2 separate regions of the Homo sapiens genome follow, and region 2 is linked to region 1. A link means that fine-mapping ties the variant in region 1 to the plasma level of a protein whose gene starts in the linked region. Region 1 holds a variant in brackets. A gene starts in the other region. All regions are shown on their reverse strands.

Region 1 (4,387 bases):
TGGGTCGCTGGTCTCCAGTCCAGAGCAGACCATAGCAGCAGGCAGTTTATAAATGCACCACTTATTCATAGTGGCAGATGTTGGGGAGCAGGGACCCTCCTTTTGGCAAACCTGATTTAAGAGACTAAGAATCACAGAATGGACATTTTCACTTGATTATTCTCTTTCTTTAAAAAACGTTACTTATTTGAAATGGTATTTGTCATAGTGTTCCTTGAACTAGAAGCTCCCAAGTGAACTGAGTAGATGCTTTAACCTCTGCCTTGGGCTGCAGTAATAGGAGTATGGAGCTCAGAGCAGGGAGAAAGCAGTCCTGTTGTGTGATACGCAGGACTCACCCCATCTGGAGCACCTTGTTTTAACAGGACATTGACAGCCTGGAGGGCATTGACAGGAGGACAACTAAACTCCTTCCAGGAATATTGTCTTTCCAAAACTATAATGGAGAGCGTTTATTTTACCAGCATCACATCTTGGGCTATGACCTTAATGTTCTATCTCAATTGATCCTTACCTGTAAGTCAAGAGCCATGTTATAATCAGGGAACTAAAGTTCAGGGGTTAAATTCACACAGCTAGAAAGTGATGGAGAATTCAAGCCAAGGCCTGACTGTCTCCTACTCCTTGTTCTTGAGCTATGATGCGCTCAGGCCTCTTGGTACCAATACCGCCCAGACTCACACGTCTCTGGCTCTTGGTACTTTGCGGTGAACGTGGTGATAGAGTGCCCCTGGCAGCTCCAGCGCAGTGTGCACAGAGGCTGAGACTGGAGCTGCTGGAAACCGGCCGGCTGCGTCTGCCTCCCTGCTCCACAGCTCACCAGCTGCGTGATTTCACCACGTGGTGCCTTCTTTTCCTCATCTGTAAGAGGGAATAGTAACAGCAGCTGCCTCCTAAGGCCACATCAGCACAGTGCCTGGTGCACAGAGGGCTCAGTACTTGTCGCTATTATTATTACCCCCATTTGGCACTTGAGAAAACTGAGGCTCCAGAAAGACCCATGGCTGGAGACTACTCACCCACCCTGCCACTTATAAGGCTGTATCCAATTAGAGTGAGCCCTCAACTAAAGTGAGAGGCTTGGCTTTGGCACCACTGCCCCTCCTCCCCTCCTTGAGCCAAAGCACCCTCCACTGACCCGCTGTGGTCCCCACCAGGGCCTGCCTCCCCTTCCTGGGTGTTAGTTTCCACAGCTGTCAATGCGAGCACTGACTTGGATCACCTCCCGGTTCCATCCACCTAGTAAATGAGTTTGCTTTTGCAGCGGCCCTGCGCTGGATGATGGAATCCAGGCTGGAAGGGCAGAGCCTTTGCACTGGTGGAGAAGGGGGTGTGGAGGGGGGCTTTTCATCCCCTTCAGCCATAAGCCACCTTCCCCATCTCCCCCTGGGCCAGCCTTGACCTCACTGCCAGAGGCAATCCCATCCTCCCTCCCCTCCCTCACTGACCTTCTGGGTCTCACTCAGCCTTATTCATTTTGCTCTTGCTTTTCTCCTGGAAATCTCTCTAAGGTAGGGCTCTAATTTGCAGGGCCACAAAGTATGACCTGGGAAACTGCTGGGGAAACTGCTGGGGAAACCCCAGGGGTTCTTGCTCACGAGTCTGATTCTGTGGCAGTGGTGGGGCCCAGAAACGGTCGTTTTTATGGCATTCTCAGGTCATTCTGAAAGAGGAGGCCCCCAGAACATAACTTTGAGAACCACACCCTTTAAATCTCTTGTATCTCTGGTCCTTTAGACACACACACAGATACACCCTTCACACACACACACCCTTTCCAACAATTTCCACCCAGGATGACTGTGCATGCTGAGAACTCTCATGGGGTAAATAAAAGAAGGGTTTGCTTTCATTTTGTTTTTTTGGGTTTTTTTTCTGTTTTTTAAGAAAAAAGCTTCATAATCCGAACAAATCTTGTGGATATAATCTGATGGTTATTTAACATTCCCCTTCTCATTCAGACTCCACATAATTAAACCTATTGTTAAAAGAAAAACCTTCACTAAATTAAATTTAATAGAGTTTAATTGGGCAAAGAATGATTCATAAATGAATCAGGCTCCCGAGCTGGAGTAT[G/C]CTCACAGTCTCCAGCACAGCTCCATGGTAGAAGAAGATTTATAGACAGAAAGTGAAAAGTGATGTACAGAAAATGGAATTGAGGTACAGAAACAGCTGGATTGGTTACAGCTCAGTGTTTGCCTTATTTGAACGCAGTTTAAACAGTTGGTCCCCTTTGATTGGCCAAAACTCGGCGATTGACACAGAAGTAGGTTACAGTCTGTTTACGCCTCCTTCTAGGTTATAGTTCACTAGGAACAGAGAAACCTTTAGGTTGAGCTTAAAGTATTTAAGGAGGCAGCTTTAAGCTAAATTTGATTTAACACCATTAAGAATGACAGAGCCTCCATTTAGAAGAGCCTCCATTTAGGTTTCATTATGAATCAAATGAAAAGTGATTCATAGTCAATTAGTTATACTTAAAATAACTTTTGGATTCCTCTTAGGTCCCTGATTTGGAGGGTTTATTCGTTCATTCAGTCCATGTTTCTGAGCACCTGCTATGTGCCAGGCACTGAGAGAAGCCCTTGGGTGTACGGCAGTGAACTAGGAAGGCAAGGACACTGCTCTTAGGCAGAGAACTTCAGGGAGAGTGCCAAGAAGAAAAGAAAAGAAGGCAGCATTAGAGAAAGAGAGTGGAGATTCCAGCCTAGATGGTGACCAGGAAGGACATCTTCCTCAAGGAGGTGACATTTGAGCTGGTATTCAGGTACCAAGAGGTCACCAGCAGCAGCCATGTGGACATCTAAGCAGTCTCCAGTCAGAGGGAAGAAGAGAAGGACCCACCCAGGCAGGCGTGAGCAGAGGGCAGGTCAGTGTGGACAGAGCAGACAGGCAGAGAGCACCAGATGGGGGTGGGAGGGGCAGGACTGCATTTTATCCAAGTGCAGCGAGAAGCCAGTGAGGTGTGTGATCAGGAAGTTCACTGCTAGGATTTGTGACTTTACAAAGGTCAGCCCACCTGCTGGCTGGTGAGGACTCGGAGGAAACAGGAGGGGGTCGCATGTGGAGCACTAGGCCGCCGCTGCAGCGGTTCCCAAAATGGCGGCTTGGAGAGACGCGCACAGATTCTGGAGGCAGCGGATGGGATGTCAAGGATGACCAGGAGAGAGACTAAGGATGCCTCCTGGGTATGAGTGAGTTTACTACATTAAGAAGAACGAAGCTGGAAGTTTCTCTAGCTTAGAATAAAGAATGTCTCCATCTTAGGGATAGGAGGGACCCCAGCCGTCTCCTGGCCCCGGCCCCCGCCAGCATCGGAAATCTCCTCCACAGAGTGTCCAGAGCTGCGGCGAGCCTGCCCGCCTGGAGCATCTCCAGTGTGGAGCAACTCCAGCGGTAATTGTTGGAAAAGCCTGTTTTTGGTTTCCTCGTGCTTTTCTAAAACGTCTACTCTCCGATCTCATTTCTCTCCTCTGGGGCCATACCTTGTCTGCAACCTAGCATTCATTTATTCAGAGTCGACGGAATGCTTATTAACTACACTGTGTCTACACGCGGAGGGTACAGCGGTGAACAAAACAGACAATGCCCCTGACTTCACAGGGCTTACATTCTACTTGGGGAGACAATGAAAACACTAAATATGTGATTAGCCATGTGCTGACAAGTGCTTTGGAGAAAAATATTGCAGGGTGAGGGGGCAGGGAGTGCGGGGGAGGCCTGGCTGATAAGGTGGCATTCCAGCCAAGACCTCGAGTCGTGAGGTTGCAGGCCACGGATCTGGAGAAGGAAGCCTCTCGACAGCAGAAACTGGAGGCGGCACAGGCCCCTTTTGTTTTATCTGTGCCTGCTTTGAAGAAGTGGATGTGCTCTTGGAAAATTCTGTGTGCTAATCAAATATTTGTAAATCAAATCATATTTTAAATGCATCAAAGAAACTTCCATTTAAAGTGACCCTGGAGTAAATGAGTCTGCAAAGTAAATAAAATGTTCTGATGTGAATAATTTATCTACCTTGTAAGTATAGATTTTCACATAACCATTGCTTGATTGTGTCTTTCTAAATTTAATTATTTATTTCTGAAGTGGGGCAGTTACAGACCGGTGCTGAGAGCTGGGGCTTTGCAGTTACAGAGCTGTGGTTTTGAAACCCAGACCTACCTCCTAAAGTGACCTGGGACAAATTATTTAACTCCTATGAGCCTCTCGTGTTGCTTTTGTACAATGAGGATAATAAGACAGCCATGTGCCACCATGTTGGTCAACGATAGACTATATACAGTGGTGGTCCCATAAGCTTACAATGGAGCTGAAAAAATTCCCGTCCCCTAGCGATGCCATAGTTGCACTGCAACATATTATTCATGTGTTTGTGGTGATAAGCCTA
Region 2 (4,387 bases), not on the chromosome of region 1:
ATTTAAACAATAGGAAATTCAACATCTCTAATATCAGAAAGGGCAGAGGATGGCTCCAAAAATAATTTACCAAGGTTTCTCTTCTCTGCAGTTCTCTGGACTCTCCTGACTCCAATGACTCCATTTTCAGTGTGCTAGATGGCTGAAATTCCAGCAATCATATCTAGATCCCGAAATAGTTAAAGACTGAAAGGGACCATCTTTTCCCATGTCTCTTGTTTTAAGAATAGAGAAATCTGTCATAGCAGAGGTTTCCTTACAACTCAGTGGCCGGAATCGGGTATCATACTCTGACAGAGATCTCTAATTGCTTCTGAATATCTACTTTCCCCACCTTCTTCAGTAATACCGTCCTGATTTTTATCTGGGCACAGCAATGGCCAGGTATATTTCCTTGCCTCCCTTGAAAGCTACATTTGGCCATGTGACTAAATTCTGGTGAGTGAAACATACGTAGAAATGTTGTGTAGAACTTCCGGGAAGTATCCTTAAAAGAGAGGTAGCATCCTCTTTTTATTCCTCTTCTTCCATTCTGATTTCTGGAATGCAGACGTGAAGGCTGAAGCTTCTGCAGCCCTCTTTGATCATGAGGACAAGGGTACACTCAGGATCAGGTGGAGCAAAGAACTGGAAGGAGCCTGGGTCCCTGATAAATTCAGGAACCTGCCCTAAGAGCTTTATTCTGCCTACGTCCAGCTAGGTGACAGAATAAAACTTGTGTGTTTAATTTACTGTTAATCTGAGTTCTTATTAACTTCTGGAGAATCTAATCCTAACTGATACACATGCCTTCATATAGCACCCTCATGATTTTGGCCACATCTTTCTATCATTATCTTATTGTTTCTCACCTTCTTTACATTGGCTTTTTCACTTAATTTGAAGAGAATTTTTTATATCATCACTGCTTGACTATAAAATCAGTCCTGCCTGGCAAAAATAGAAGTTAACTGCAAAAATAAAAACAATGGAAATGTACTGACTTTAAAAAATTGGCCAACAGTGTTTCTGTATGACAAAGGCAACAAGCTTATTTGATATGAAATAGTTGCATTAGCTCCTTGGGGGCTCCAGTGGCCTTCCTTTTATTCACTGATAATATTAGCAGCTTCATTAGGCATTTATCTTAAATTTGCATGCACTTCCCGGGTGGGAGGACTTTCCTCTGTATATGGTGGTGAGTAATGGAGTTCTACCTGAAATCATCCATTACCTCAGTTGGAGAAACATGTCTCTAGGAGGGAAAAAAATTCAAGACTTTCTTTTACATTTGGTTGGAGTAGTTTTCAAACTTAGTAAGCCTAAGAATCACCCGAGGCTCTGGGTAAAATGCACGTTTCTGGTCTTGTCCAGGTGTAGAGATCAGGAGTCTGCATTGTAAAATAGTGCCCCAGATGACGTCAATACAAGTAGTTTTCAGACCTTAATTTCGGAAGCATGTGAAAAAGCATTCTTTATTACTGTATTCACTCATTCTTCAGTAATTGTCGAGCACCTTCCAGAGTGCTCTGTTAGACCCTGGTGGGAGGCAGAGGGTTTGCGTGGAGACTTAAGATTCAGTTTTCATGTCTCAAGGCATCAAATGAGATGTACTAGAGTTAAAAGGCAAAAAGGACGCTGTTTGTATCAAGCGCATTAACCCCTTTTAGCGTTTCTCTTACAATGGGATCACCTTCGTCATACGCTCCCAGTTGCTACTCATTACCTTAATAACACTAATAAAGCACCACCACCTCGAAGCTGGGGCGAATAGGCCCAAGAGACGGCCTACTTCTGTGGTGACCCTGAACTGCTCCAGAGGACCCAGCTCTCTCAAGCCAAGTGGTTTCCACACTTTGCTGCACAGTGGAGGCACTTGTAGAATAAAGAAAATAGGCCGACCCTCCAGGTTTGGAAGCCACTGGGCTAGCGGCCTCGCCAAGGCCCTGAAGCGCCCACGTCTTTGCGCCCTCTATCCTCAGCCCCGAAGGTGCGCGCGGAGGCCTCCCGCCCCGGCGGGCCTGGTCCTGGCGCCTGGTCCACCCCGCCCCACCGCTACCCGCCGTGCCCGGCTCCGGCTCCGGCTCAGGTGCGGGCCGCCGGCCGGGAGGAGCTGGTGCCGGAGCTTCTCAGGCCAGGGCGCTGCAGAACCGAAAGCAGCAGGGGGCGGGGGAGAGGAAAGAGGGGGCGGGAGCGGGGACGCGAGGGCGAGGCGGCCACGCGGGGCCGGGAATGCCCGCGGTGCGGGGCCCCAGAGCCGCCCGGTGGTCGTGTCCGGGCGATGGCTCTTCGCCTGGTCGCCGACTTCGACCTCGGGAAGGACGTGCTCCCGTGGTTGCGGGCGCAGCGGGCAGTGTCGGAGGCCAGCGGGGCCGGAAGCGGCGGCGCAGGTGCGGGAGGCGCGCTGCGGAGAGGGGTGGGGGCGGGGAGTGGGAGTCCCTCATACCCCCCGGACTCCGACCCGGTGGGGAGCAACCCGGGGCGTCGCCGCCCTGAGAAGGCTGGTGCGAGGGCGTCGCTCCCCTCCTCAGAGGGCTGTTTTGGCTTTGCCACCCACACCCAGCCACGGCGGAAGGTCTGGGGGCAGAGCCCGGGCCAGGTCGCCGTGGGGCCTGAGGCGCCTGGCTCGCTGCCGGCCCGCGGAAATTCGCCCTTGGCAGAGGGGCCGGGCCGCTGGCGGTTCCCTCAGCATCACCTCACGGCGAGGGCAGAGGGTCGTGCTCAGCTCAGCGGCCGCATCCCACCTCCCGGGGGGTTCATCGGCAGCGCAGGGGCTTTGCCAAGACAGGAGTGCTCCTGGAAGCTTCACGTTTTGAGAAAGAATCCGTGACCACCAAGCAAACCACCCTATACCTAACGGTGGAACAGTTTGTCCCCACATTTGCGAGACGTGTTTATGTGTCTGTTGAACCGTGTCCGTGGCTCAGGGGACATGGGCCTCGGCGGTGAGGCGCAAGAGGGCAGGGGCCGCCTCCAGGCTGCGCGCGGCGGGGCGAGAGCCCCCAGCCGCCCCCGAGCTCCGCACCTGTGCAGGCTGGGGCTGCGCGCGAGATGCTCGGCTCCCGGCCCTGCCACTCCGGGCTTTTTGATGATTTGGTAAGGGAGTGAAAGTGACTTTTGAGCCTTCCCAGCACTGATCTGTTTTAAAGAAGGGGAACTTTGTGATTTCTTACAAAGTTTTAAAAGTCTTCTATAAATATTGGAGCTTCAGAGCTTAAATGCAGCTTCAAAGCAATGATGCCTGTAGGTCTCACCTTGTGTGTAGGGCGCTGTCCACTTCAGTGAATTTGGAAGTGGGTATTAAATGACCCACATCTACAACTCCTTTCCCTTAAACGCTGGTGAAAGTTTTCTTGATGTGAGTTATATATCAAGTTGCTATCTTGTATCTTCACACTCTCCTATGACTATAGCGAAATTATTTGTAGGTTTCCTTGGCTTGGAATATTATTAGCTCCAAATAAGGAGTTATATGTTTGTGTAGCGTATGCATTGAGTTTGCATTAGTGTCATGCTTAGTAAGGCTTTACTTTTTTTCGAGGTGGAGAGGGTGGTCAAGGAAGAATTTTATACAAAAATTAGCTGGGCGTGGTGACACGCTCCTGTAATCCCAGCTACTCGGGAGGCTGAGGCAGGAGAATCGCTTGAACCTGGGAGGCAGAGGTTGCAGTGAGCCGAGATCTCGCCACTGCACTCCAGCCTGGGCAACAGAGTAAGTCTCCGTCTCAAAAAAAAAAAAAAAAAAAAAAAAAAAAAAAGTCGCCCACATGTCTGAAAAGTTTTTGAAGGCTTAACTTTTTGAAATACAACAGGCAGCTCTGTCTTCTACTACCAAGTACTCCTTTTTCTGGACTCCCACTTTATTTTGCTAAATGGCAGGTGTCTGCAAATGAGAAGTTAGATGAGTGTGAAATGCCACAGTCTTATGTTTCCGTAATGTGTGTCGTGCTTGAAAAGCTGTGTGTGACCCACTGGGACCTGGCTTCCTTGTATCTTTCGCTCATCTCTGAAGAAATATAAACTTGTGTATTGACCTTCCACTAAACAACAGATAGCTCTAGGTCCTCAGAAGGTACTTTCTGGAAATACTAGCTTTTCTGATACTGGTAGTATTTTGCTCTTTCAGAGCAAATATCTTGGTAAGATATTAGCCCTGTTATACTAAGAGAATTATCACCTCTGATAATCACCAGTGGGTGGTAGCTCAAAAATACCCCCACACAAATTAATTCCTGTTCTGTAATTTATAGCAGTGGCAGGGAAATCTGGGATTCTGTCTCATTTCTAGCACAGCAGTTACAACACACATTTGTGGAAATCATTATCCTTTCAAAGTTCTGGCTTTTCAAATGTAAATTATGAATTACTATACCATTGTAATGCCTCCTCTATGCATACTTGCTTTCTG

Direction of the effects. Positions count from the first base shown, and alleles are read on the strand shown. Strength reflects both the effect of a copy and how common the allele is.
For the plasma level of the protein whose gene starts at base 2,233 in region 2, allele C in region 1 goes with a lower level than allele G (weak association).

What was found. A credible set is the group of variants that fine-mapping cannot tell apart. PIP is the posterior inclusion probability: the model's chance that the variant is causal. The UK Biobank Pharma Proteomics Project read protein levels with antibody pairs (Olink). The fine-mapping took linkage between variants from a reference panel, not from the people measured, so its PIPs are less certain.
Region 2: GSAP starts here. The variant in region 1 is the best candidate, but not a certain one, in a credible set for the plasma level of the GSAP protein (UK Biobank, PIP 0.63).

What each region holds. Positions count from the first base shown.
Region 1 is chr10:98,402,049-98,406,435 of GRCh38, reverse strand. The region is part of intron 4 of PYROXD2 (pyridine nucleotide-disulphide oxidoreductase domain 2); the gene reads left to right. Among named protein-coding and RNA genes, the nearest start is that of MIR1287, 8.9 kb to the right of the region's middle. RefSeq lists an enhancer at 1,466-1,515. The variant G/C (reference allele first, on the strand shown) is at 2,077.
Region 2 is chr7:77,414,195-77,418,581 of GRCh38, reverse strand. It overlaps GSAP (gamma-secretase activating protein), which reads left to right and starts at 2,233. Exons shown (of 31, transcript NM_017439.4): 1 at 2,233-2,369. The coding sequence starts at 2,261. LOC101927243 (a long non-coding RNA gene) reads right to left here and starts at 3,384. Exons shown (of 5, transcript NR_110073.1): 1 at 3,234-3,384. RefSeq lists silencers at 1,938-2,287, 2,508-2,717, 2,778-3,067.